Linked DNA regions of Homo sapiens: all the other regions are linked to region 1. Evidence: fine-mapped expression QTL. A gene starts in region 1. Each other region holds a variant in brackets. All regions are shown on one strand. Distances are between the middles of the regions. Region 1 holds the start of JAKMIP1 (janus kinase and microtubule interacting protein 1). Region 2 overlaps JAKMIP1 (janus kinase and microtubule interacting protein 1). Region 3 overlaps JAKMIP1 (janus kinase and microtubule interacting protein 1).

Evidence for each region.
Region 2: its variant is fine-mapped to the expression of JAKMIP1 in whole blood (TOPMed, PIP above 0.99).
Region 3: its variant is fine-mapped to the expression of JAKMIP1 in whole blood (TOPMed, PIP above 0.99).

What each region holds. Positions count from the first base shown.
Region 1 is chr4:6,197,126-6,205,301 of GRCh38, reverse strand. It overlaps JAKMIP1 (janus kinase and microtubule interacting protein 1), which reads left to right and starts at 4,753. Exons shown (of 21, transcript NM_001099433.2): 1 at 4,753-5,049. It overlaps JAKMIP1-DT (JAKMIP1 divergent transcript), which reads right to left and starts at 4,569. Exons shown (of 4, transcript NR_037863.1): 1 at 4,363-4,569. RefSeq lists enhancers at 3,186-3,235, 6,188-6,277, 6,488-6,597, 6,618-6,667, 6,788-6,947 and silencers at 4,338-5,097, 5,368-5,717.
Region 2 is chr4:6,103,302-6,111,477 of GRCh38, reverse strand. It overlaps JAKMIP1 (janus kinase and microtubule interacting protein 1), which reads left to right. Exons shown (of 21, transcript NM_001099433.2): 3 at 5,511-6,005. Among named protein-coding and RNA genes, the nearest start is that of C4orf50, 89 kb to the right of the region's middle. RefSeq lists an enhancer at 5,258-5,790. The variant T/A (reference allele first, on the strand shown) is at 4,237.
Region 3 is chr4:6,149,830-6,158,005 of GRCh38, reverse strand. The region is part of intron 1 of JAKMIP1 (janus kinase and microtubule interacting protein 1); the gene reads left to right. Among named protein-coding and RNA genes, the nearest start is that of JAKMIP1, 47 kb to the left of the region's middle. RefSeq lists an enhancer at 4,598-4,767. The variant A/G (reference allele first, on the strand shown) is at 4,847.

The DNA of each region.
Region 1 (8,176 bases):
CTTTATAGGGAGCTGAAACCTGCCTCTCTACCACTTCCAGGGCTCAGGGCACTTCCTCCCTACCACTTGTGGGCTCAGGGCACACGGGGCGGGGAAAGCAGCTTTGGCTTCGGAAGACTCGTGGCTTCCATGCTGCTTGCTGTGAGTGAGCCCCTGGGCCCCAACCTCTCGTCCCTAATAGGGAGATCTTGGTGGTACCTGACCCCCTGCCCCATAGGTCGTCCTGAGGGTTATGTAGTGACCACGTGGTGGCAGCGGGGGTGAATTCCTTGTGAAGCTAAGTACAGACCCTTCCAAGGCCTGGGAGAGCCAGAGCTCTGGGTTCATGTGGCCTTGTGTTTGGAAATACTTTCCAAAAGCAAGATATTTTAGCTGTAACTGGCTAAGCTGGCTGCCAGGGTTTCCAAGACAGGGTTCCACAGACTGAAGAGCTTTAACAACAGAAACTTATTTTTCACAGTTCAGGAGGCTTCAAGTCTGAGACCAAGGTGTTGGTTTCCTCCAAGTCCCCTCTCCTTGGCTTGCAGATGGCCATCTTCTCACTGTGTCTCCACAGGGGCTTCCTTCTGTGTCTTAATCTCTTCTTATAAGGACACCAGGCATATTGCATTAGGTCCCACCCTAAAGACCTCATTTAAGCTCAGTGACCTCTTTAAAGGTCCTATCACCAAATACAGTCACATTCTGAGCTCCTGGGGGTTAGGGCTTCAGCACTCAAGTTCTGGAGGACACAATCCAACCCATAATACCCTCTGTCTCTTTCCCTATGCCGCCCTCATCATGCTTCCTCCCACTTCGGAGCTGCTGCGGAGGCCAAGGGCATTTTGGGGATGTAGCTGAAGGGGGATTGAGTTGGGGATGCCTTGGTTTGGGTTTAGTGGGGTGTGTTTATGTAGGTCTGAGCCAGTCTGTGTGGGTCGAGTTGTTGCTCCCTGAACAGGCTAATGGCTCCCAGGAGTGCCCTCCTTGCCATGGCACTGGCAATGTGTGCTATGGTGCCTGGCACCAGGAGTCTATGGGCAGAGGAAGAGACATAAGGGTTGAAAATGTCATTCTTCCAATAGGAGAGGTCTGGATTTGCAGACCCTCAGAGTCACAAGGCAACTGGGGGTGTCGCATAGCCCAGGACTGCTCAGCAGGAGTCACCTGGGGCATTTAGTAAAATGCTGATTCCTAGACCCTGCTACTCTGAGGCTTCAATTCAGTGGGATGTGGAGGAGCCTGGGCATCTGCATTTCTCCTATGCCTCTCCAGGTGATGGGCGCCAGCACTGAGGTTTAGGAGGTGTTAGTCGAGTCATGTTCTGGTTTGCAATTGTTCAGTTGCTTTTCATCATGAAAATTAATAAAATCCCAGTAAGAAGCCTGGAAGAAATAGAATTCTTCCAAGTGTTAGCATTCATTTATGAAAGAATGATAGACCTTTCTCCAAATTTGAAAACAATCTCAAAAAACTACCTGAGATTACCAATAATGAGTTATGAGGCTGACAAAGTTTTCCAACCAACATTAAAATTTGTTCCCATCATTATAGGAGTACTCTGAATTATCTATTTTCTCCACAGGAAAAATATTATAAAATCATTGGCTTCCAAAGAGGTAATCAAAAATGACGAAGAAGCAAAAAATGTAAAAAAAAGAAGATATTATAAAGGTGGATATCAGGTATCCAATTAATACAATTTTATATTAGTTTTATAATGTTTTCGCAACGTTTTTGATATTTGTCAACTTAAAATATTTTAAAATTTGTTGTGATTTGTTATTATTCTAAATAAGTTTTCATTTTTGTACCAAGTCTTGTACTGGGGTTTTTAAATTCTTCTTCCTAAGGGGGACTGTAGCGGCTCCAGGTTTTACAAAACCTGGATCTACTAACCAATAGTTGCCTGTTCAAAAGTCATTCTTCTTCTTTTCCTCACTAATGGAACCCTGACTTTGTTTCAGGCAGCAATGTACCTTCAATTAAAAAAAAACATCCTTGGCCGGGCGTGGTGGCTCACACCTGTAATTCCAGCATTTTGGGAGGCCAAGGTGGGTGGATCACCTGAGGTCTGCAGTTTGAGACCAGCTTGGCCAACATGGCAAAACTCCATCTCTACTAAAAATACAAAAATTAGCTGGGTGTGGTGGTGTGGGCCTGTAATCCCAGCTACTTGAGAGGCTGAGGCAGGAGAATCACTTGAACCCGGGAGGCGGAGGTTGCAATGAGCCAAGATCACGCCATTGCACTCCAAACTGGACAACAGAGCAAGACACCATCTTAAAAAATAATAACAATACTCCCAGCCTCCTCTGAAGCCAGGGCTGGCCATGAGACACCGTCCCAGCCAATGAGATAAAACAGAGCTCTCTGGGGAGAGTTTTCAGGAAAGCGGTGAAGTGGAGCTGACCTAGTGTGGGTATGCCTTTTGTTCTTCCCCTTCTTGACTGGAATAGTGATGAGATGTCTGGGAAGAGGCAGCCAACTTGCCACGTAGAAGACATTTTGAAAAAGAAAATTACATCCTGAGGGTGAAGGAGTGAGAGAGGATAAAGTGAGGAACAGCTTGCCTTTGCATTTCTTGTTAAGAGAGAATAAAAATCTGTTTAAGCCGCTGTCTAGTTGTGATCCCGATTACTCACAGCCAGACATAACCCTTAATCTACACACATGTATCGAAGTACCACCAGCTGGGCTTTTTAAACAACAGAAATGCACTGTCTCACTTCTGTAAGCTAGAAGTCTGAAATCAGGTGTCAGCTGGTCCACGCTCCCTATGAAGCCCTGGGGAAGGATCTGTCCCAGGCCGCTCTCATGGCTTCCGGGGGTTTGCTCCCATCTTTGGCATTTCCTTGGCTAGCTGATGCCTCGACCTGATCTCTACCTTCATGTTCACACGGCATGCTCCCGTTGCTTGTGTCTCTGTATCCAATTTCCCCCTTTTATAAGGATAGAAGGCAGACTGGATTAGGAATCCAACCTACTCCATTGTGACCTCATCTTAGCTAATTACATCTACAACGACCCTATTTCCAAGTAAGGTCATATTCTGAGGTCCTGGGAGTGAGCACTTCAACATACGAGTTTTTTTTTTTGAGGGGGTGGGTGGGGGGAACACAATTCATCCCAGGATACCTGGGCATTGTCCCTGATTGTCCCTCCCTCCCTCCTGTCCACGTCCAAGCCGTGAGCATGTCCTGCCAATTCTGCACCCAGATTGCTCTGATGCGCTGATACTTCACTGTATCAGCGTGGAGGAGGCCCCCACACTGCCTCCTTGTCCCCACTCTTGACTACTTCAGCCCATGCCCCAAGGGCAGCCAGGGCATCTGCTAAAGATAGTCTCACATCTGCTCACAGATATCCTAGTTCCTCCTGACCCCCTGAACCTTAGAGGTCTGCACTTCCTCCTCTTCTGAAGTTAGGCATGGCCATGTGACCTGCTCTGGCCAATGAAACGTGAGCAGAAGTGACGAGAGTCCCTTCGGGGAGGAAGCCTTCAAAGCCAGCATAATTGTCACCTTTCATTCACATTGCTGCACCATGTGGGTGCTCGGCTGGCAGACAGCCCCAGCAGCTTGGGCTCCCAACCACTCTGATGAACAGAGCCCCATTGACCGAGGCAGGATGTATGATGTGGGCAAGACACACCAGGGAGATTTGGGTTTGGTTGTTACTGTGGCTAACATAGCTTATCCTGACTGATGCACTTTAAAAAATATCAATCTGACAATGGTCCATGGGACCACCTTCCAGGTGAGACAGTCTCCAAACTCTCGCCAGCCTGCAAGACCTTGCAAGTGCTGCCCCTCTGTGCCCCCGCCCCCCATCTTCCACACACTCCCTCTCACCATTCTGTGGCCCAGATACTTTTATCAGATTCTCAAATATGTCCCGTTCACAGCAGTCAGGGTGTTCCCCCATGCTGCTCCCTTTGGTGGGTGCTCTTCCCTGCCTTCTCCTTGCTAGAAAGTAAGCTCTGGTGGGCAGCCGCTTCCTCTCTGCTGTTCACTGTGGTGTCCCCACATCTTAGTGACTACCTGGCACACAGCAAGTGCTCAATAAATATTTGTCTAATGACACTGAATGAATGTTTGCCCAGCTGAGTCCTGCCCCTCCCAAGTCTCAGCTCGACAGCACATCTTTCATTTGGCTATGACCTGCTGATGTGGCTTTGCTGGGGGCAGCCTGGGCTGGTGGGGGGAGGCTCCCTAGGCTGGCATCCGCCCAGCTCTGCCGCTTGCTGGCTCTGCCGCCGTTAGCGTGCGCTTTAACCTCTGACCTTCAGACCTCTCATGCGTACAGAGGGGGACATGGATCTCCGGGGTCGCTGCGTCTTCCTGACCACTGACGGCCAGGACGGCCCCAGCCCCGCTTTACCTGCAAGCCCCACTCCAGGCTCGAGCCCCCGAGGGCAGGGATAGCTTCCCGGGTCCCGAGGCTTGACCAGAGCCTGAAAGCTCCTGCCGGGGGTTGCTCCGACTCAGCGAGGCGCCAGGCTGCCCGGCGCGGCTGGGGGCGCTCAGCGCCGGGACCCCAGCCCTGCCCCGGCCGCCCGCTGGCCCAGTGCGCACGCTCCGGCAGCTCAGCTCCCCCTCCCACGGCGGCAGGAGAGCTCCCGGCATCTGCCCGGGGCGGGGGCGGGGGCGGGGCGGGGCGGGCGCCGCGCCCTCCTGCCTGACTGGCAGGAAGACAGACCAATCGGAGGGGCTCCCCGGGGGGAGGGGCGGTGCCGTGCCTGAGCCGGGCGCGGGCGACCGAGGGAGCTGCAGCCACCCGCGTGCGGCACGCGCCGGCCGCCTGCCCGGATCGCGGCCACCAGTGCCGCGGCCTCTCGACTCCCGCCCCGCCGAGCCGCGCGCGCGACTGCCATCCTCCTCAATTGCTTTTTACGATTTTTTTTGTGCATGCATTCATTTTCTGTTCCGTTTTGTCCTTTTTAAGGCGGTGGCGGCGGCGACAGCGGCGTAAGCTCGCAGCGGGGAGGGGGCGGCCGGAGGATGCGGCGCGGGGCTGCGCTCGCTACGTCCGCTGCTGCTGCCCGGCTCGGGCCTGAGCGCCGAGCAGGTGGGTACAGGTGCGCCGGGGGGCGGGAGGCGAGCGCTGGCCAGAGGGAACCCGTGGACCCGGCGACCGAGGGGCGGACCTGGCGGCAAGGGACGCGGCGACCGGTGCCGCCCCGCCCCATCGTCCATCTCCCCCTCCTCCGGCCATCGCGCCCCCTCTGGGTCCCCCTTCCACTCTCGCATCCCACCTCAGTGGTCCCCCACCCTTCCATACCCATCCCCCACTCCTCTTCAGACCCCCTTGCAAAATCTCCCAGCCGCTGCGTCGCTTCCCCCAACACCCCCTCCCGGTCCCGCCCCCAGCCCCCAGCTCTCCTTCACGCCACCCCTATTTCCACTCTTCTCCGGATTCCGCCCTCAAGCCAAGGAGCGGGAGGGGGACCCACCCGGTGCCTGCCGGAGTGGCGCGGGGGGTGTGGCCGGCCCGTCCCCTCCGTGTCTTCCGCAGGGTAGGTCACAGTCCCCCAGATCTCCGCCCAGGTGGCAAAGAAGATGGAGCTGGGGGCCGCGCCCCGGCGGCGCGGGGCCCGAAGGCGAGGCCGCCCAGCCCGCACCCCACCCCACGCACGGCACACGCCGCCGCGGCCCCTGCCACGCACACCCTCGCGCTGCTCCGCCCACGTGGGCGCCGGGGAGGAGGCTCGAGAGATGGGAAGAAAGGCTGGCACCCACCCTCCTGCCGGGCCGGCGCGCCCTGGGCGCACTGGCCTCCGGAGATGGCGCGCAAGGATTGACTCTCGTGGTGCCAGACACCTTGCCGGGCGCCCTGCGTCGGGGCCAGCGGCCTCGCTGGCCTGCGTCAGTGCGCTGCGGCCTCGCCTCCCAGCCCCTCGGTCCTTCGCTCCATCCCCCCTGCTGTGGGCTCCTGAGCATCCGGCCTGGGCAGCCCAGATAGAGGCCGCTTACGAGGCTGGCGCTTCTTTTCGCCTTAGAAGCATCCCGCTCCCACACACCCCAGCTCGCCGGTCTCCTGAAGGCTGGGCCAGCCTCGGCTCTCCGCCAGCCTCTGCCCGGCTCTCTGAGCTCCAGCGATACTGTATCTAACCGCCAGCCCTCCTCCGCCGCCCGCCCCATCTGCGCACACTCGCAGGCACACTGTCCTTGGCCTTTGCCAGTGCTGTGCTCTCTCCGCGAACGCCCTAACTTCAGCTGGCCAGCTCCTTGTAGTCAGGGAGATCCCCTTGCCCCTCCTGAGCTTTCCTGGAACGTGGCGCTGTCCCAGGATGCTGTTACCATCTGATGGCCTCTGCCTTCCAGAGCAGAGGAGGAGGTGGGGAGGAGGGCAGGGGCAGCCTCAGCCCCTCTCCCAGGGCTCCACCCACAGTGAATGTTGGGCATAGCAGGGCCATCCCCCCTAAGTCAGAGTAACCCGCTGGTGTGGAGGGCGAGGCCATGGGAGGAGCTGGCCCTTCCTGTAGCACCCTGGGCTGGTGGGTGGTGGCTCCACTAGCTGGGATGGGCAAGGAGGAGGGACACATTCGGGGATAGAGTGGGGGAATTAGAATCCTTTCCTAGCAGGGCATTTCCACCCTCCTGGAGACCTGCAGCTCTGCAGAGACTGATGTTGTAGCGCACAGTGGAGGCTTGTGGCTTGTTGCAAGATTTTTGTTGCTGTTGAGGTGTGTACCGGTCTGTAATGCTGAACATCTCTGCTCTGGAGTCTGGGGTAATTCTTATCTGTAGTCTTTTTGCAGTAAGCAGCTCCCAAAGGCTCACAGTGTGGACCCAATGCATGAGATGACTGGCATTTTCCTCCTTCACAAACCACCCATGACTCCCACCGCCCCCACGACCTCACCAGTTCCTCACATCCTGGCTTCCCCAGCCCATCTCTCCCCTCTCCCTGCCACAATGTCTCAGCCACGCCTGCTGCCTCTGTGTTGCGTAGACATGTCTTCACACTTGGGTTTTTCCCCCACATGCTTCTTTTTCCCCCCGTCTAAAACAATGCTCCCCTCCCTTGAGTATGTGGAGAACGATTCATGATTAAGCCCAGCTCTCAGGTTCCATCAGTGTGATTTTCCCAGACTCTGCCGGAAAGATTGTGTGCTTCTCTCATTTGTGTTCTCAGAACTTTTTATACACATACAGTGTGATATTTGTTTGTGTAGTTTTTCCTTAAGCAGATCTTGCCCACTAGAGACTGGGGACACGGGACACAGTGAGGTGGCCTGAGAGATGGTCCCACTTTGGTGGGGGCTCTGTTTTCCTGGGGAGGTGACCACACAGACACTGCCCGTGCTGTCAGAGAGTCATGTGCAGGGAGAGATGGGGACAGGCGGCCCGGCCAGGAAGGCTGCACGAGGAAGTGGCAGGACCGTGGCCCCACTCTCTTGGTGTGTAAGGGTGGATTGGGCTGTGGGACAAGTGGCAGAGGGAACAATTTCTAATGCTTAAGCCAGCAGCAATTGCCACTGCAGGCTATGGCTATCTGTTTAACTCCTCGAGGGTGGGACCTTGTGTCTCTTCAGGCTCTGAGCCAGACTGCCAGGGTTCCCATTCAGGCCCTGCCTCACTTAGCTGTGACTGGGCAAGTGCCTCCCTGCTGGGCTTTCTAACTAAATGGGGGCTTCCCTTGGGGAGTCTGAGGATGACTGCAGTGTGTCCCAGTTCTGCTGGGTCACTCCTCTCCCCATAGTGGCGACGGGATCAACCTGCAGGGCTTCTGAAGTTGGACTTGCCTGTAGTTTATCCCTTGTCATTGTGTGATCTTGGGTAAGAAGATTAACCTCTCTGAGCCTCCATTTCCTGTATAAAAGGGGGCAGTGGCATCTCTTTGGCTAGGTTGGTGTGGGGATCAGAGGTGTGGTCTCTGAGCAAAGGTAGCCGATTTATGAGGGGTGATGATGGTGAAGAAGCTATGAGAATATTTATTCATTTAGCCTTGTCACAGAGCAAACTCCCACGCCCACATTTGGGGTCCTTCTTTAGCTAACGATGAAACTAATGATCAGAGCAGTGGCCACCATTGTGGTGGGCTGAGAGGTATGAGGGACCAGGCTAGGTCAGTGGAACTGTGTTGAGGACCAGCTCCCACCCTACTGACAGTGTGACGTTGGGCAAGTCGCTTAGCCCCTGTACTCACTTCTTTTGTCTGGATAAGGGGAATGAGGGCCACGTAAGGAAAT
Region 2 (8,176 bases), 94 kb after region 1:
CCAGGCACAGCTGCAGTCCTATTTGGTGGCCTGCTTCTGACTTGGGTGGGCTTGAGGGTAGAGCAAGCCCAGGGTTCTGTGAGCCCAGAGAGGAGCTGCCAGCCAGGCTGAGCACAGAAAGAGCATGGAGATGCAGGCTTGCTCCTGGGTGGCTCGAGCAGTTGAAGGTCTATCTGAAGCCCCGAAGGTGCCCTCTGGCTCCTGCTGTAGTACCTGGAGTGACGGGTGGAGGCTGCTTGGGGAATTGCAGCAGGCGTCCCTGTCTTGTTGAGCTGGGACTCAGGTCGCCAATGGAGTGCTGGGCCAGATCCAGCTTCCAGGTGGGGACGGGGCTGGGGCCTGGGATCTGGCTGCAACCCCAGCTCAGGATGGCCACACAGAGCAGAGGCTGAGTTCTGGACCAGGGGACTGGGCTTCTGGAACTTGGGGACAGATGCACCTGTCTCCATCCCTAGGTGTTCAAGATTCCAGGCCGAGTGCATCCAGCCTCTTTTAGACATGGATGCTGGTGATGCTGACCTGTTCACCCTTTAGCCAGGTCAACAGGCCAGGTCACCTCCGGGGCTGGGGCTGGGGCTGACTGGCTGGGGGTGTAAGGGCTGGCAGCTTGTATCTGGACATAGCTACAGCAGCTGTGGTGACAGGGAAAGCTGCTCACTCATATCACACTGCCTGGGCTCAAATCCCCTCTCCACCACCACCCCTGCCTGAGGTCTTATAAGCTGTGTAACCCCCTGCCTCAGTTTTCCCATCTGTAGATGGGGACCTCTAAGGTGTCTGCCTCCTGGGTTGTTTGAGGAATGAATGAGACAGTCACACACAGGGCCTGGGTGCTGCCTGTCATACGCTCACATGACCATCAGGGTGACCTTTACATGCCTACTGTGCAGATAGCACCAGGTGCTTTAGAGGGTGTCATGACCCTGGCAGTGACCTGAGAGATCAGGTGTGGCTTCCCCCGTGTTACAGGTGAGCAAGCCAAGGGCTGGAGAGGGCGGGGACTTGCCCAGGTGTGTTAGCTTGCCAGGGCTGCAGTAACCAAGTCCCACAGATAGGGCGGCTTACGCAACAGACGATTGCTGTCTCACAGTCCTGGAGGCTGGCAGCCACAGATCCAGGTGTCAGGATTGGCTCCTTCTGAAGCCTCTCTCCTTGGCTTGCAGACGGCCGCCTTCTCCCTGTGTCTTCACATGGCTTTCTCCTCTGTGTTTGTCCATGTCTGTATTTTCTGTTCTTACAAAGACACCAGGCAAATCGGATTAGGGCCCACCCTAATGACCTCATTAGGATCTATCTCCAAATGGAATCACATCCTGAGGTCATGGGGGTTAGGACTTCAACATATGATTTTCAGGGGGACACAGTTTAGCCCCACACACGAGGCCAGCACAGTAGGTGGTATTGCAGGATTGAAAGCCAGGCCCATGCGGACCCCAGGCTGGGCCTCCCTGTTACCAGGCTGCCTCCCTGCCTCTGGGACGTGTGGCAATTTCCACTTGGATGCACGCTGGCTGATTATTTTCTCAATCCAGCCATCCATGTGGCCGCTTCAGGTTGACTTTACCCATCTGGCTGCTGGGAGAATTTCAATTCTCTGAGAATTCAGTAATGTGCTTATTGACTGGTACAAAAAACATAAATGCAAACTTTACAATTGCATTGAAGTGTTACTTTGATATGATCTCACAATCACTGTCAATGTCCCATTTAAAGTGCTGGCATTTTAGCAAAGCATCCCTGTTGAACACTGTAGGATGAAGGAGGGTGGTAAACGTGTCTGTCTATTCATCTGCAAACCCCTGGCATGCATGCTCCATGCCTGGGCTGAGTGAGAAGTGTTTGGAAGTAACTCAGAGACAGACCCTGTCCTCAAGTCGCATGGGTACAGAGCCTCACAGGAAACCAGCAATACAGCAGCCCTGGGCACATTCCATCAGAGGTTTTAGAAAATAGTGCAGGGACAAGCAGAACCCAAGGCTTCACAGGGGCAGTTTTGTGGGGGTTTTGTGGAGCATTTCCTTACTTTCTGGCATTATAAGATGCCCCAGGCTCCGCAGTGGCTCATGCCTGTAATCTCAGCACTTTGGGAGGCCAAGGCGGGCGGATAATGAGGTCAGGAGATCGAGACCATCCTGGCTAACACAGTGAAACTCTGTCTCTACTAAAAATATAAAAAAATTAGCCGGGCGCAGTGGCGGGTGCCTGTAGTCCCAGCTACTCTGGAAGCTGAGGCAGGAGAATGGCGTGAACCTGGAAGGCAGAGCCTGCAGTGAGCCAAGATCGTGCCACTGCACTCCAGCCTGGGGGACAGAGCGAGACTCCGACTCAAAAAAAAAAAAAAAAAAAAAAAAAAGGTGCCCCAGGCACATCTTGTATATTTCCTACCCCAGCGCTAGACCCAGCAGTTTCTCTAAGGGGTCCTGGTTCCTTTTATTGGAGAATGGCATTAGAAACAAAGATCCAGGCACCAGGCGTGCCCATCACTGCTGCGGTGTCATTGTTTCTAGGCCCTCTCAGCTGCCAGAACAAGGAATATATATGTGTATACTGACCTGCGTATGTACGCATACCTGTAAATATTTCCATATATGACATCTATATCCATACAAAGTCAAACATGAGTTCTTACAGATGTCCCAAGACGCATCCACTGCCGCATGGCTCCCTTCAGCCTCCTCTTGCTTGTCTGTAACCTCTTACTCCAAGTGGGAAACCTGGCTTCCCCCTCTGCCATCCACTTTCTTTGTTCAACACTATACATGTATGATGGTTTCAGAGTAGTGAACTGGTACCCATGAGATTTAGAGGGCTTTGAGCATGGAGGGTGTGGCGGGGAGGGCTGCTGCAGGTGGCTTGGGCAAGGGGGAAGTGGGGAAGTGGCCAGGCCTGGACATGGAGAGCCAGTGCTGCTGGATTGGATGAGGATGAGGATGGAAAGGGGTGAATCTGACTCACTCTCTGAGTGGGAGTGGCAAGTGAGGGTGGTGCTGGTGGTTCAGATAATTTCTCCACGCCAGCCCCCACACCCCCAGGGCATGCTCCCTCTCTTGGCCTTTGTGCCGTGGCTGCATTTAGAGTCCAAGTGCTGAGGAGCGGCTGGTGTAGGTGCCTCTACACTTGGGGTAGCTTGGAGGCACCTGGAGGTAAAGTGCTGGGCGGCTTTTTTTGGCCTGCTCAGCTGGATGGAGTGGTGGTGGGAGGGAGTGCTCTGTGCCCATCAGAGGTCACCCCAGCCTCACTCTGCTGCTTCTGTGGCATAGGTCATGTCACCTGGGCTTGGCTCTCAGCAGCTTTGGGCAGAGCTGGAGGGACCCAGCAGGGCCCTGTCCCCAGGCCCCTGCCTCTCTGTCACCATCCCTGCCCTACACACCTGGATCACCAGCCTCAGCAGCACCTCTGCCCCTCCCAGGAAGCAGCCCCTAGACGCCCCGGGCTGCCCTGCACAGGCCTCTGCCCACCCTTCCATGTTCCTCACCCCCTTTCTACCTGTGTCTCTCACACGAGGCTGCCCACCCCTGATGCAGAAAGTCAGAACCACGATAACAACAGACTTCCATTCACCCACCCACAGTCACCTCATCTTCCTCCTCTCAACGGGCCTTTGAGGGGCAGCTGTTGCCATCCCTGTTTCCTAGTAGAGGAAACTGGAGCTCTGGAAGGTTGTGTAGTCAGGGTTCTTCAAAGAAACAGAACCAATAGGTTGTGACACACACACACACACCCCCCACAGAGTGAGAGGTTATTCGTTAGTTTTAAGGAATCGGCTTATGCGGTTGTGGGGCTGGCAAATCTGAAATGTGTAGGGCAGACCAGCAGGCTGGAGATTCAGGCAAGGGTTGATCTTGCAGCTTCGAGTCCCAGTGCAGCCGGGAGGCAGAGTTCCTTCTTCCGCAGGGGACCTCGGTCTTCTCTTAAAGCCTTCGACTGATTGGATGAGGCCCACCTACATTGTGGAAGGCACCGTGCTTCACCCAGAGTCTACTGATGTAAATGTTAATCTCTTATAAAATGTACCTTCACAGCCACATCTGGACTGGTGTTTGACCAAACGACTGGGCATTGTGGCCCAGCCAAGTCGACCCACAACATCAGCCACCATAGAGGCAGAGAAATTTGCCTGGGGAAACGCAGCTCATCAAAGCAGATTAGGATCTCATTGGATCTGACCCTGCTGGCCCCAGATGGCTGTCGGCATTAACCAGGGACTTGACTGTTGCCTCGCAGGAGGGAGAACAG[T/A]CAAAACCATTTTGTCCATAACTGGGACAATTCTGTTAAATACTTAAAGTTCTGGCTTCCTGCTGCTAAATCCACTAGGAAAAGATGCTGATTGCTGCCCCCAGGGTAAGGTGGACAGAACATGGACTGGTCGCCTGGCTTCATTCCTATGATTGTGAGTATCTGGTGAAAGGAGATGTTGATCTTGTGTGTTTGCCTGGGTTGGTTTTATTTGCTTTTTTACCTGCTGTTTTAAGTAAGGATTTATCAATACTCAGGTGCCATTGTAAAACTTCTCACCTAAAATTAATTTTAACATGTGACTATGCTATCAACAGTGTGGTCTGGGGAAAAACATTGCCATTTTCCCTGGAAGCAGCTTGTCCACCAGAGGCAATTCATTTCAGGTCTTCAGAGACGGGCAGAATTCAGGAAATAAGGGCTTGTCAGGCGTTCCTGTGGAATGTGTGTTGAGTGATATTTGAAACAAAAAGGTTAAAGAAAGCATTTTGAAGTGTTTTAAGAACACACTCCCTTGGGACGTTTTATAAGTAATGTTTTGAATTGTTTGCTGATAAAATGAATAGGCTCAAGGCGGGGTGGGTTGCCTGGTAGCACAGGGTCCTCATCCCTCACCCTGGGCAGCTCACCAGACTGTCTCTGATCTTTGGCTGCCTCATGATAAAACAGAGGAGAGAGAGAGGAAGAGAGAGAGAGAGAGAGGAGAGAGGGAGAAAGAGAGGGAGCACGCTACTTCCTTCCCAAGACCGTGAGGGGTTCATGTGGCAATGTGGGTGATGCATTGGAGCCCCCAGCCCAGCTAGGGACCCCACTCAACAAGAATGGTGCCCCCTGCTCACTGCCCCCCAGGACTTAGAAGCCTGGTCTGTCTTTTCCAACTCCACAGTCCGCGCATGGGGCCCTGGAAATATATTTCTGGTTTACAATCTTTTGGGTCTTGGTGATGATTTCTGCAGGGTGTGTTTTGTGATTGAGCAGTCGTCTCAATTTACAACCTGGAAGAGATGTCAAAGGCTTGAATGCCTCTCCAGCATCCTCAGGGGGTTTCCACCCCCAGGGAAAGTCTCAGGGAACTAGCAGGAGAGATTCTAAGTGGGGCTGGCAGGAGGGTCAGGCCTGCAGGGCACTGCCGAAGGGGGAATCCATGGGAACGTGGGCCCAGGTGGGTGTCTTGGGCGTGGGGAGGCTGTGGCCAGCTCCCCCAGCTGTGACCCTGACCCTGACCCTGACCCTGACCCTGACCCTGACCGGCTCTCTCGCCGCTCTGGCTGCAGGTGGGCAAACTGCGCGAGCGGCTGCAGGAGGCGAAGCTGGAGCGCGAGCAGGAGCAGCGACGGCACACGGCCTACATTTCGGAGCTCAAGGCCAAGCTGCATGAGGAGAAGACCAAGGAGCTGCAGGCGCTGCGCGAGGGGCTCATCCGGCAGCACGAGCAGGAGGCGGCGCGCACCGCCAAGATCAAGGAGGGCGAGCTGCAGCGGCTGCAGGCCACGCTGAACGTGCTGCGCGACGGCGCGGCCGACAAGGTCAAGACGGCGCTGCTGACCGAGGCGCGCGAGGAGGCGCGCAGGGCCTTCGATGGAGAGCGCCTGCGGCTGCAGCAGGAGATCCTGGAGCTCAAGGCAGCGCGCAAGCAGGCAGAGGAGGCGCTCAGTAACTGCATGCAGGCTGACAAGACCAAGGCAGCCGACCTGCGTGCCGCCTACCAGGCGCACCAAGACGAGGTGCACCGCATCAAGCGCGAGTGCGAGCGCGACATCCGCAGGCTGGTACGTGCCGCCCCCTCCCCCGCCCGCGGGCACGCGGCCTTCCCTCCCTGCACGCATGGGGGAAATGCGGAGCTCCGAGGACCTGCTGTGCTCCAGGCATTGTTCAAAGCACTGGGGCCCCAGCAACCTCCCTCCCGTCTTAGGTGTGGTAAGGAGGCTTTGGGGCTGCAGGTAATCCGCTCAAAGAACAGTTCCCCATTTGTCAAAGGAGCTTAATGGAGACTAGCGAGGGTTGTTGCAAATGCCTCGTGATAGCGTATCTAAGTGTCGGGCATTTATTGATTCATTTACTTCAACAACCATGAGCAGACTTCCATCTCCAGGTAAGATGCCACAGGTCAGGGCAGGCCGGCCAACTGGCTGCAACAGCAAGGGAAACATATAAATTGCAAATAGTCCTGTTTTGAAAGATACTGGAGATCTGTGGAAGCTGTGGAGTGTGGATGAACTAAAATTCCAAAGGGAAGGGGAAAGAGCCCTGCCTGGGCGGCCTAATTGCCAGCTGCTTTCTTCCCTTGGGGCATTTGTGGATTCTGGGTGCGGGCTGAGGATTGGATGTCCTCAGAGAGATGAGTAGGACTTTTCTGCCATCTCAGAGTGGGCATGAAACAATGGAAACCAGAGGAGCCCCACCTAGGCCAGCTTGCTGCACAGGAGATCCTCCTGAGTCCTGGAGTGAAGGGGGAGGCTGGCGAGCCCAGCTGGAAAGGCAGAATGACAGCTCCCATGCCCTCACTGGACGTAGGAGACAAAGGGAGGGGGCCCGCCACAAACACATGACCAGTCTGCCCCTCAGGGCGTTTGTCACACTTTGAAGCTGTGTGGGGCAGGAGGCTAAGAAGTAAAGTAAGCTGAGATTTTCAGACTGGATCAAAGAGTAACAGTGATATTTACAAGAGAGACATCTTAATTATGAGGACATGGTGACATGGAGCATAAGAGGATGGGGAAAGATACACTGTGCAAGCACTTCCTAAAAGCAAAGCTGGTCTGGCTGTATTAATGTCAAAGGCTCTAAGGCAAGAAGTAATACTAAAGACACAAAAGGACAGTTCTTAATAATAAAGGGTCAATTCAGTGGGAATGCATTCAATAACAAAACCTCAAAATGTATAAAAGAAAAAAATTATCAACACTAAAAGGAGAAGCAGACAAATCCACAGTTACGGTTGGGGACGAACACGCTTCTCTCAGCAAACAGTAGAACACACAGACAAAGAATGAATAAAGACATGATTTCACCAACACAATTAACCAACGTGAACTTACCTGACAGAGCACTCTATTCCACAACTGCAGAATACTGTGGACATGACATACTTTTATCATTGTAGACCGCATTTCAAAATTTGTGGGTTGTAATTAGTCCTTAGAGCAAAACATATTTTAGACAAAAAGAAGAAATGCTGAAAATCAAGCATCTAAACTTCTATCTCAAGAAGAAAGAAAAAGAACAGCAAATTAAACTCCAGAGAGTAGAAGGAAGGAAATTTTAAAGAGCAAGAAGCAGTGAAATAAAATCAATAAAGAAAATCAACAAATTCAAGAGTTAATTAAAACTGATAAATTGACAAACATTTAGCAATATTGATAAAGCAAAACAGAGACAATAAATTACTAATATCAAAAATGTAAAGGGGGAAATACCACAGCTCCTACAGTCAATAAAACCACAGCAAACAGCATATACCAATAAACTTGAAACCTCGATAAAATGAACATATTCCTTGAATAAGCACAATGTACCAAAACTGACATGAAACAAATAGAAAATCTAAGTAGTCCTAAAGCTCCTAAATAAATTAAATCTGTAATGAATAATTTTCCTATGAAGAAAGGCCCAGGCCTAGATGGCTTCACAAGTAAATTCTTTCAAGTGTTTAAGAAAGAAGTAAAACTAATTCTAGCCAAAGTCTTCCAGAAAATAGAGAATTAGGAACACATTTTAACTAACTTATGAAGCCAGTGTAACTCTGATTCCAAAAGCAATAACATTACAGGATAAGAAAACTTTTGGATTACCTTTTATGAACATAGATACAAGAGTACGAGCAAGATATTAACATATCAAATCCAGCAATACATAGGAAGGCTAATAAGTCATAACCCAGCTGGGTTTATTCTGAAAATATAAAGATTGGCTTCATATTCTAAAATCACTGAATATAATT
Region 3 (8,176 bases), 47 kb after region 1:
ACTCTTCTGAAGTTGTAGAAGCTGTGTTCTTTGGGAGAATGAAGTGATCCATAGAAAGAAAGCTGTTGCATCAGGAGTTAGTGCTGCTGATGCAAAGCAAGACACCCTTGGTTCTAACAGAGCCCAAGGAAAGGAAATAGACAACAATCTGTTAGCTGTGTTGGCATCTAATTTAAGTTTTTTCATCAGAATTCTCGACTCTACGGTCCCTCACTCACACCCTACTGGGTGTGCTGCTTCATGGCTGGTGTTTACGGAGAGGCATATCTAACCTGCTCAGTGAATGTGAAACCACAGACAACTGGCACCAGTTTAAACAGGAGAAAGCAGGGGTTAGGTAGCATGTCCAGGGCTACGCTGGGGAAGATGGCTGAGCTGGGATTCTGGTGGGATTGTAGCTCGGAGATCCCGGTTCTGAGTTGTGATGGTCTGTGCCAGTGGCTTATGAAAAAGTTAGGAAAATGATGGATTCTTAGTCAAAAAAGGTGTTACGGAAAGTGTACGCTGAAGTTTGATTTGAAAATTTGAAGATTCTTATATCTATAATTTGTAGCTTCCTAAATATCACAAATTACCTGAATTACCATAGAAATTGCTGCTTTTCAGAGAGCTTTCAATTTAATCTCATTTGGTTCTTGGGACAACCCTGTGTTGTGCGCCAGCTTCCCATCCCGTGCGCCTTTTTGCAGAGGGAGTAACCTGCCCAGGTGCACTCGTCTTAGTCCATTTTGTGTTGCTATAACACAATATCACCACCTGGGTAGTTTATAAAGAAAATAAATGCGTTTCTTACAGTTCTGGAGGCTGGGAAGTCCATGGTGGAGGGACCTGCATCTGGCAAGGGCCTTCTTGCCACATCTCATGGCAGAAGGCAGCAGGGCAAGAGAGTTCCAGAGAGAGAGCTGAGAAGGGGGCTGAACTCAGCTTTTTATCAGGAATCCACTCCGGCAATAATGGCATTAATCCATTCATGAGGTTAGAGCCCTCATGACCCAATCACCCCTTAAAGGTCCCCCCTCTTTACACTGGTGCATTGGGGATTAACAGTGAACTTTGAGGGACGCATTCAAACCACTAGCCATGGAACTTGTTATAGAAAATTCAGGGCTGTGGCTGTTGGCCAATGGGGTGTGGGTCTACTGAACAATTGTAACGTGACCAACACCTATCATGGGCAGACCATGTCCATGTGCCAGGTGTGGCCATGAGATTCCCAAGACCAGACATCTGGGGACAGTGGAGCTGGGATGTAACCAAGGTCTAGCCCAGAACTGACCTTTCTTGTACATCCTACAGCCTTCAATGAAGGAGATATTTTAGCTCCCACATCTCAGCGGATGCTGTCAGACATTTCCTGGGTGAAGACAGATGAAAGCCTTCCACATGCATCAGATCTTTGAGTTGCATCTCAGTAGCTAAGCCCTGGGTCACCAGGATGACTGGGGGCTGAAGCCGAACGCTCAGAACAGATGGCTCTGGATTTATTTCTGCAAATTATAAGAAAGGAAATGCACAACAATCTGTTAGCTGTGTTGGCAGCTAATTTAAACTTTTAAATCAGAATTCTGGACTCTGTTAGGTACCGTATTTTATTAAATCTAAGCTGCTGTCAATTGGGACATGCATCATTATTTTTGTACCACTAAAGAAATGGGAAAAAGTGCTATTCATTAAATGATGATGGGGCATTGAATGTGAGATGAATCTTGATTTCAGAAACGTTAACTTAGGATCAGTGTGATACAGTGGCATTCGCTTGTTCCTGTGTTGGCGGGCCACTTCCGAGGGCTGGCTTTGCGCGTGGCTGGCTGGCTCTGTGCCGGGCGTGGTACGGTGAGAAGATGTTCCCGGTCTCTGCTCCCAAGAAACACACAGATGGGTCAGGTATTTAGAAATGCCAACAGATTATTTCAGAATAGTTTGTTGATGGATGGGTTTTCTGGATCACCAAATATTTCTTGAAGATCCATTATTGTGCTGGGCACTGTTCTACGCACTGAGGAACCCACCACGGACAGAAGTCACAGAGCTGACCCTTTCCGTGGCAGTAGATATTCATCCCCAGCAGCGGTTCTCACACATTACCGCACAGAAAAATGTATGTGCAAACTTAAGATTGCCAGGCCCCACCTCTAGAGAGTGCCATTCATGAGGTCTAGGGCAGGACCCAGGAAGGCTGCATGTTAGCAAGCACACTTGGGAATCAGGATACACAGGCCTTCAGAGCAAAATTTGAGATGATAGAGCTTCAGCTTAAAGGACACTATAATATCCCGTTCTATAAATGTGCCATGGGACATACAGTTGTTGGTGAATATTTAGCAAATATTTAGTTGGCTGCTTATTTTCCTTGTTGTAAACAGCACATCCGTGCATGTCCCTGCAGCTGAATATGCGCGTAAATCCTCCGTGAGTTCTTTAGGGGAAATCAGGTAGCAGCGCTGGGCGTTTAGAAGTTTTCAGAGCCAGTTAGGAGTTTGCTGTCATTTTTCCAACCACCATAACCCACCCTGGAACCAAACTGTCTGGATTTGAGTCCCGCTTAGTAGCTGTGCACTTTTGGACAAGTGTTTTAGCCTTTCCATACTTTTTAAATCTCTAGAATACCTATGTTTTAGGGTTCTCTTGAGGGTTAAATATAAAGTGCTTGGAGCAGAGCTGACGCAGGATAAGGGCTGGGTAAACATTCGCGGTGGTGGTGGTTGAGTGGTGGTTGCTGGTATTAAAAGGCGTTGAGCGCAGAGGAGGGAATGTTGTTTCCTCCTTAGGAGGAGCATTCGTCCTCCTCGTGGGCACACCAGGGTCACTGCGGAGGGAAGCTCCAGCCAGGCATTCATGTGTAGGCCTTTTGATAGCGGAGAGTCAACTGCATTGTCACAGATCCAATTTCAGCACACCCCAACACTGTCACCAGAAGTATCTTCCCAGCAGGCTGGGCTGGCATCTCCCGACTGTCTTCCCACTGCTCGGGAATGAGCTTTAAATTCCTTTATCCACAGGACAAGGAAGGAAGCCTCTGAGGCTCAGGCTCCACCCCAGCTAAGACCCCCCACCCTACCCCGCACCTTTCCCTGCGTGCTCTGTGTTGGTTTGTGGAGTGAGAGGGTCTCAGGGGGCTTCCTGTGGGAGGCGATGGATGAATAGGCCTTCGAGGAATGAATAGGAGCTTCCCAAGTGGAGGAGGAAGGAAGGACTGTCCACTGGATACAAAGGCAGAACAGGATGTTTAGGGTGCTGTCTGTAGTTCATGATGGCTGGGGGTGGGGAGTTAGGAGTGGGCTGGGTAGTAAGTAAACTGAAAGAGGGGTTCAGCGGGCCGGATTGAAAAGAATTCCATTTGCCAGGGCTGCAGAGTTGGGCACAGTCCCTGCGTGCAGTGGGCTGTGCGTGTTGGGCTCTTGGAAGCCTTGCTAAGTTTCTTGGTGTCTGCCTTTTCGGTATTGCCTTTTTCAAGGCTGAAATGCATCCTCTTCCTTTTATATCCCCCCTGCTTTTTTTTTTTTTTAAAGGACTATAGACATCTGACAAATTCCTTGTCCAATCACTCAGGGAACTAAAGGCTTCTGTTCGGTTTTTAGCTTGTTGTGAAATGGGGACTTGGAAGGGGACCACTCTCTTCACGCTCTTTGTGGTAAATCCTTTCTGGGCATGCAGATTTAACATCCTAGGGGGTTTTCCTTGCAATGGTTTTGATGTGAAAATGACCGAATTATTAAAGTAGTTCAATGGCCTAAAATAGGAGCAACTCTCCCCAGTGCAGCCTCTCTGCACGTCCAGTGATTTGCTTGTTTCTTCAGCCTCCGCCTGTGTCCAGCTCCGCTCTGTCTTCCCTCCTGCGAGGGTCAGTGTCTCCCTGAGTGCAGGGTTTATCAGCTCTGCAGGACACAAGCCTGTGCCTTCTCACCATAGGCAGCAGGATGCAGTCAGCCAGGCATGGTCTGGGGGCTGCAGAGATGGCCTTGAACTCTCACTCTGGTTCAGCAGCCAGTATTTAGTAAACATCTGCCGCATACAAGACCTGGGCAGACTCTGTGACAAGTAAGAGGCAGGATCCAGACTTTCCCAGCCAAAAGGGGCCTCAGGGAGCGGGTAGCTGGTTCCGCATTTCTCAGTGAGAGTGCTCACCAGTGTTGCGATGTGAGATTTTAGGTGACAGTAGCCAAACATAATTTATTTTAATAATACTTTAGTGTGCATTAGGGAAAATATAACTGTATCTTATAGTTATAAAATATAGCACCTGAAGCCTATGATTTGGGGGATATTTTTGCTTAGAATAAGGCTGAAGTAGTGTACAGGTTTTTCAAAAGTCAGTAGTGTTAAAGAAAAGTACTAAGCACATAAAGGTAAGGTGCCGAGGGGCACACGGGAACATGATGGCCTTCCACAAAACGTTCTCTCTCCAGATTGTCAGGGCTGTCTGAGGTGCACCCTCTTACAGCGCAAATTACACCTCCGGAAAGCTAATTTTAAGAAAAGAAGAACCATGCATTTTATGCAGAAGTCACAGCGGCGGCAACTGATGACTGAGGTTTGGGAAACACCGTTGGCTCCAGTGCTCATTTTTCAAAACATGAAATTGAAGCCTAGAGAGGGCCAGGGTCACAAGGCTGTGGAGAGAAGAAGGGGCTTCAAATCCCAGGGCTCCTGATGCTCAGCGTGGCTCCTCTTCTCACCCAGATCTGCCTGTGACCAAGGCCTGTGTGAAGGAGGCCAGGCTCGGGGAAGACCCCTGGAGCTGAGGCTGAGAGGCAGGGACGTTGGGGCCTCTGAGTAGGAATCAGGGTGCTGTCGAATGGTGAGCAGGTGTTGGCCTCTGGTGAGCTGGATGCCAGGAGAGTCTGGT[A/G]GAGCTTGATTTTGAAGCCTTGGCTGGCAAGTGTGAATCTGCCTGTGTAGTCTTCAGGCAGGTAGGGGAGGGGGATGTGCATGGGTGGGGCTGGTCACAGAAAAACAGACTGAGCTCAGGTTAACAGGAAGGTGATGTGGGTTTCCTAGAATTGGGGCTAAGGGATGCCCACTTCTTTTTGTTTTTTTGAGACGGAGTCTCACTCTTGTTGCCCAGGGTGAAGTGCAATGGCGTGATCTTGGCTCACTGCAACCTCCGCCTCCTGGGTTCAAGTGATTCTCCTGCCTCAGCCTCCTGAGTACCTGGCACTATAGGAGCCCACCACCATGCCCAGCTATATATATATATGTATATATATATATATATATATTTGTATTTTTAGTAGAGACAGAGTTTCGCCATGTTGGCCAGGCTGGTCTCGAACTCCTGACCTCAGGTGATCCAACCACCTCAGCCTCCCAAAGTGCTGGGATTACAGGCATGAGGCACCACACTCGGCCAGGATGCCCACTTCTGTGAGAATATTGCAAAGATCTGCTGCAAGAGTGAAGTGTTGAGTATTGGGATCAAAGAACTAGTGTTTAAATATAGGGGTTAAAGGGTCACATAAATATTCCCCGGCATCAGGATCAGAGGTCGGGTTTTCTCTTAGAGACTGCCTGCCTTTTATTCGTGCGGACACAAACTCTTCCAATGCCAGGCCTTATCTCTGATCATAGGATGCAGAGCAGCAGGCAGCTCCCCAGCCAGTTGGTGGTGGGGCTGGGTGAGGGCGGTTCTAGGAGCTGGGGCTACAGGCTTAGGTAATGCAGCCTCCACCAAAGAGGAAGAAAGGAAGGCTTGGATGAGTGAGTGAGGACTCTTGATCAGAGTCCCAGTGGGAGGTCATGGCCTCAAGTGGAAGAAATTTCACCTTTTTACTCCCATTTAGAGCAGCGTTTGCTGGTTAGATAGTTTTATTCCGAGTTGATTTGACTTCCTCCCTCCCTGCTCTCTCTCACTCTCTCTCTGTCTCCTCTTTTCCCACCCTCCCTCTCTTCCTTCCTCTCTCCCTTCTTCCTTCCCCTGTCTCTTTCTTCTTCCCTCCCTTCCTTCCTCCTTCGCCTGCTTCCTTTCTCCTTTCCAACCCTGAGACCTTTATTAAGTGGTAACAGTGTATCAGGCATAGTGGCGAGCCCCGTAGTGGTTACCAAGTAAAAGTCATCATAACAACAGCAGCTAATGTTCAGGGAAGGTCAATGTCATGTACCTGGCACTGTGCTCACTGCTTTTACTTATATTGTCTTGTTTAATTCTCATAACAACACTATGAGTTTGGTATGGTTATTGGATAATCTCATTTTACAGGTAAAGAAACAGATCTAGACAAGTGGAAGGACTCACTGGCCTAAGGTCTCACTCCATACCCTTAGCCACTTTGCCGTCCAGCTTCAATGGCTATTGAGATCCACCTTCAACTCTAAGTTTCAAAGAACTTGAACAGCAGACAGGAGAACAGGTGGTTCCAGCCAGGAGGACTGGAGGACTCTGAGCTTAAATGCGGCTGTGAAGGTCACAGTGCTGTGAGTGCAACTAGGTGGGGCATGGGAAGCTCTAGGAAGACTTAGGGGAGGTGACATTGAGGCTAGAGTTGGCCAGGTCTGGGGTGGTGAGAATGGTGGGTAAGCAAGCAGAGGGCCTTCTGGGCAGAGAGAACAGCTTGGGCAGAGGCATGGAGGCACCTCAGAGAGGGCGCTGAGCATTTGGGGATTTGGAGGCAGTATTTTGTGGTGCAGTGAGGAAGAACATGGGAGTCTGATCTCATCTTTCATCTTGGCCCTGCTATTGCTGGGCTTGAGATCTTGAGAAAGTTGCAGACACTTCTTAAGCCTTAGTTTTTCCGTAGGGAAAGTGGGAATAATTACAGAAGTAACTTCATAGGGTTGTGGAGAGGATTAAATGAGGTCCTGTATGGAACATAGACATGGTGGCCATTGTTTTCATTTTTGGCATGTAGGGTGCTATGGCCGTGTCACAGTTGGGAGGGCAGCAGGAGACAAGCTCAGGAGCTTGAATGCCAGACCAGAGTACTTGGGCCACAGCCTGGAGACAGTGGGAGACTGGGGAAGGTATGGCGGGGGCGCTGCACAAGGTCACATAGAAGCCAAAGCTTGGGGAGAAAGAGCTGCCATCCCCAGCAGCCTTCACCAGGTGTTTTGCTTTTGGTGGATGACAGGGACCCACTGGTGGGGTTGTAAATGTGTGTCACCTGGGCACACTCAACGCTGACTGCTTCAGGTGTTGCACTGGGTGTCTTCCGGTGGCAGACATTATTACTGTCTTGCTCAAGTGGAGGAGCTTGAAGCTGGGATGCGGAAATTTCTTGCCTGTTTTCTTCTTCCCGCCATGGTCTAGGAAGCTGATTTTAGAGGCCTGCCTTTTAACGTGCTTTTAAAAGATTTTTCTTCCTACCTGTAGCATCAGGGCAGTTTTCTGGGGCCCAGATGGAGTCTGTTGGGTTTTGAAGAGGAAGCCAGACAGACGCTGATGCAGGTGCTGCCGGCCCCGTGGTCTGTTCATGAAGGTCAGGAGTCCGTTGAGCGCCGTGGGAGCTGCCTCCGAGGCAGGGATTAAGAAGCGGGTGTCTATTCCTGGATGCGGAAACCACTCAGTTCAGCAAACAGGGCTGTGTACCTGCTGTGTCAGGCCCCGGACAGGGCCCTGGGGACGTAGAGGTGGATGAACCGTGGACACTGTCCTTGAGAAGCCCGCTGCACAGTAAGGCTTTTAGTTAGAAGCTGACACCGGGGGCCAACCTCAGCCCCTGGTCTCCGCAGTCTGCTTGCTTTCTCTGAGGTGTTTCTCCTTCTCTGTACTGGGAGGTTGGGTGGGAGGGAAGCTGGCACCTCCTTCAAAGAATTATGAAGATTACTGAGCTAATATACATAAGCCCAAAGCATGGGGCCTGTGCCAGCACTTTCTTCTCTCTCTCTCTCTCTCTGATGGAGGAGAATGTTCTGTGCTGTGGGGAAGTAGCCGAAGGGGGCACTACCTGTATCATTCACTTTCTTCCCCAGAGCTTGGCATATGGCAGGCGCTCCACAAACTTGTAGGCGTGTTTCTTGGAAGAATGAGTGTGTAATTGACCTTGGAGGATGTGAGATTTAGGCAAGGGGAGATTTGGAATTGGCGGGTGACGTTCCTGGTAAGCAGGGGCAGTGGAAGGTGCAGAGCAGAGGCAGGAGGAGAAGCCCAGCTGGAGGGTGGGCCATGGGTGGGGAGAGCTGGGAGTTGGAAGGGAGAGGTCACTGGGGCAGCCTTCTAGGATCTTGACCATCAGCCTGATGCAGT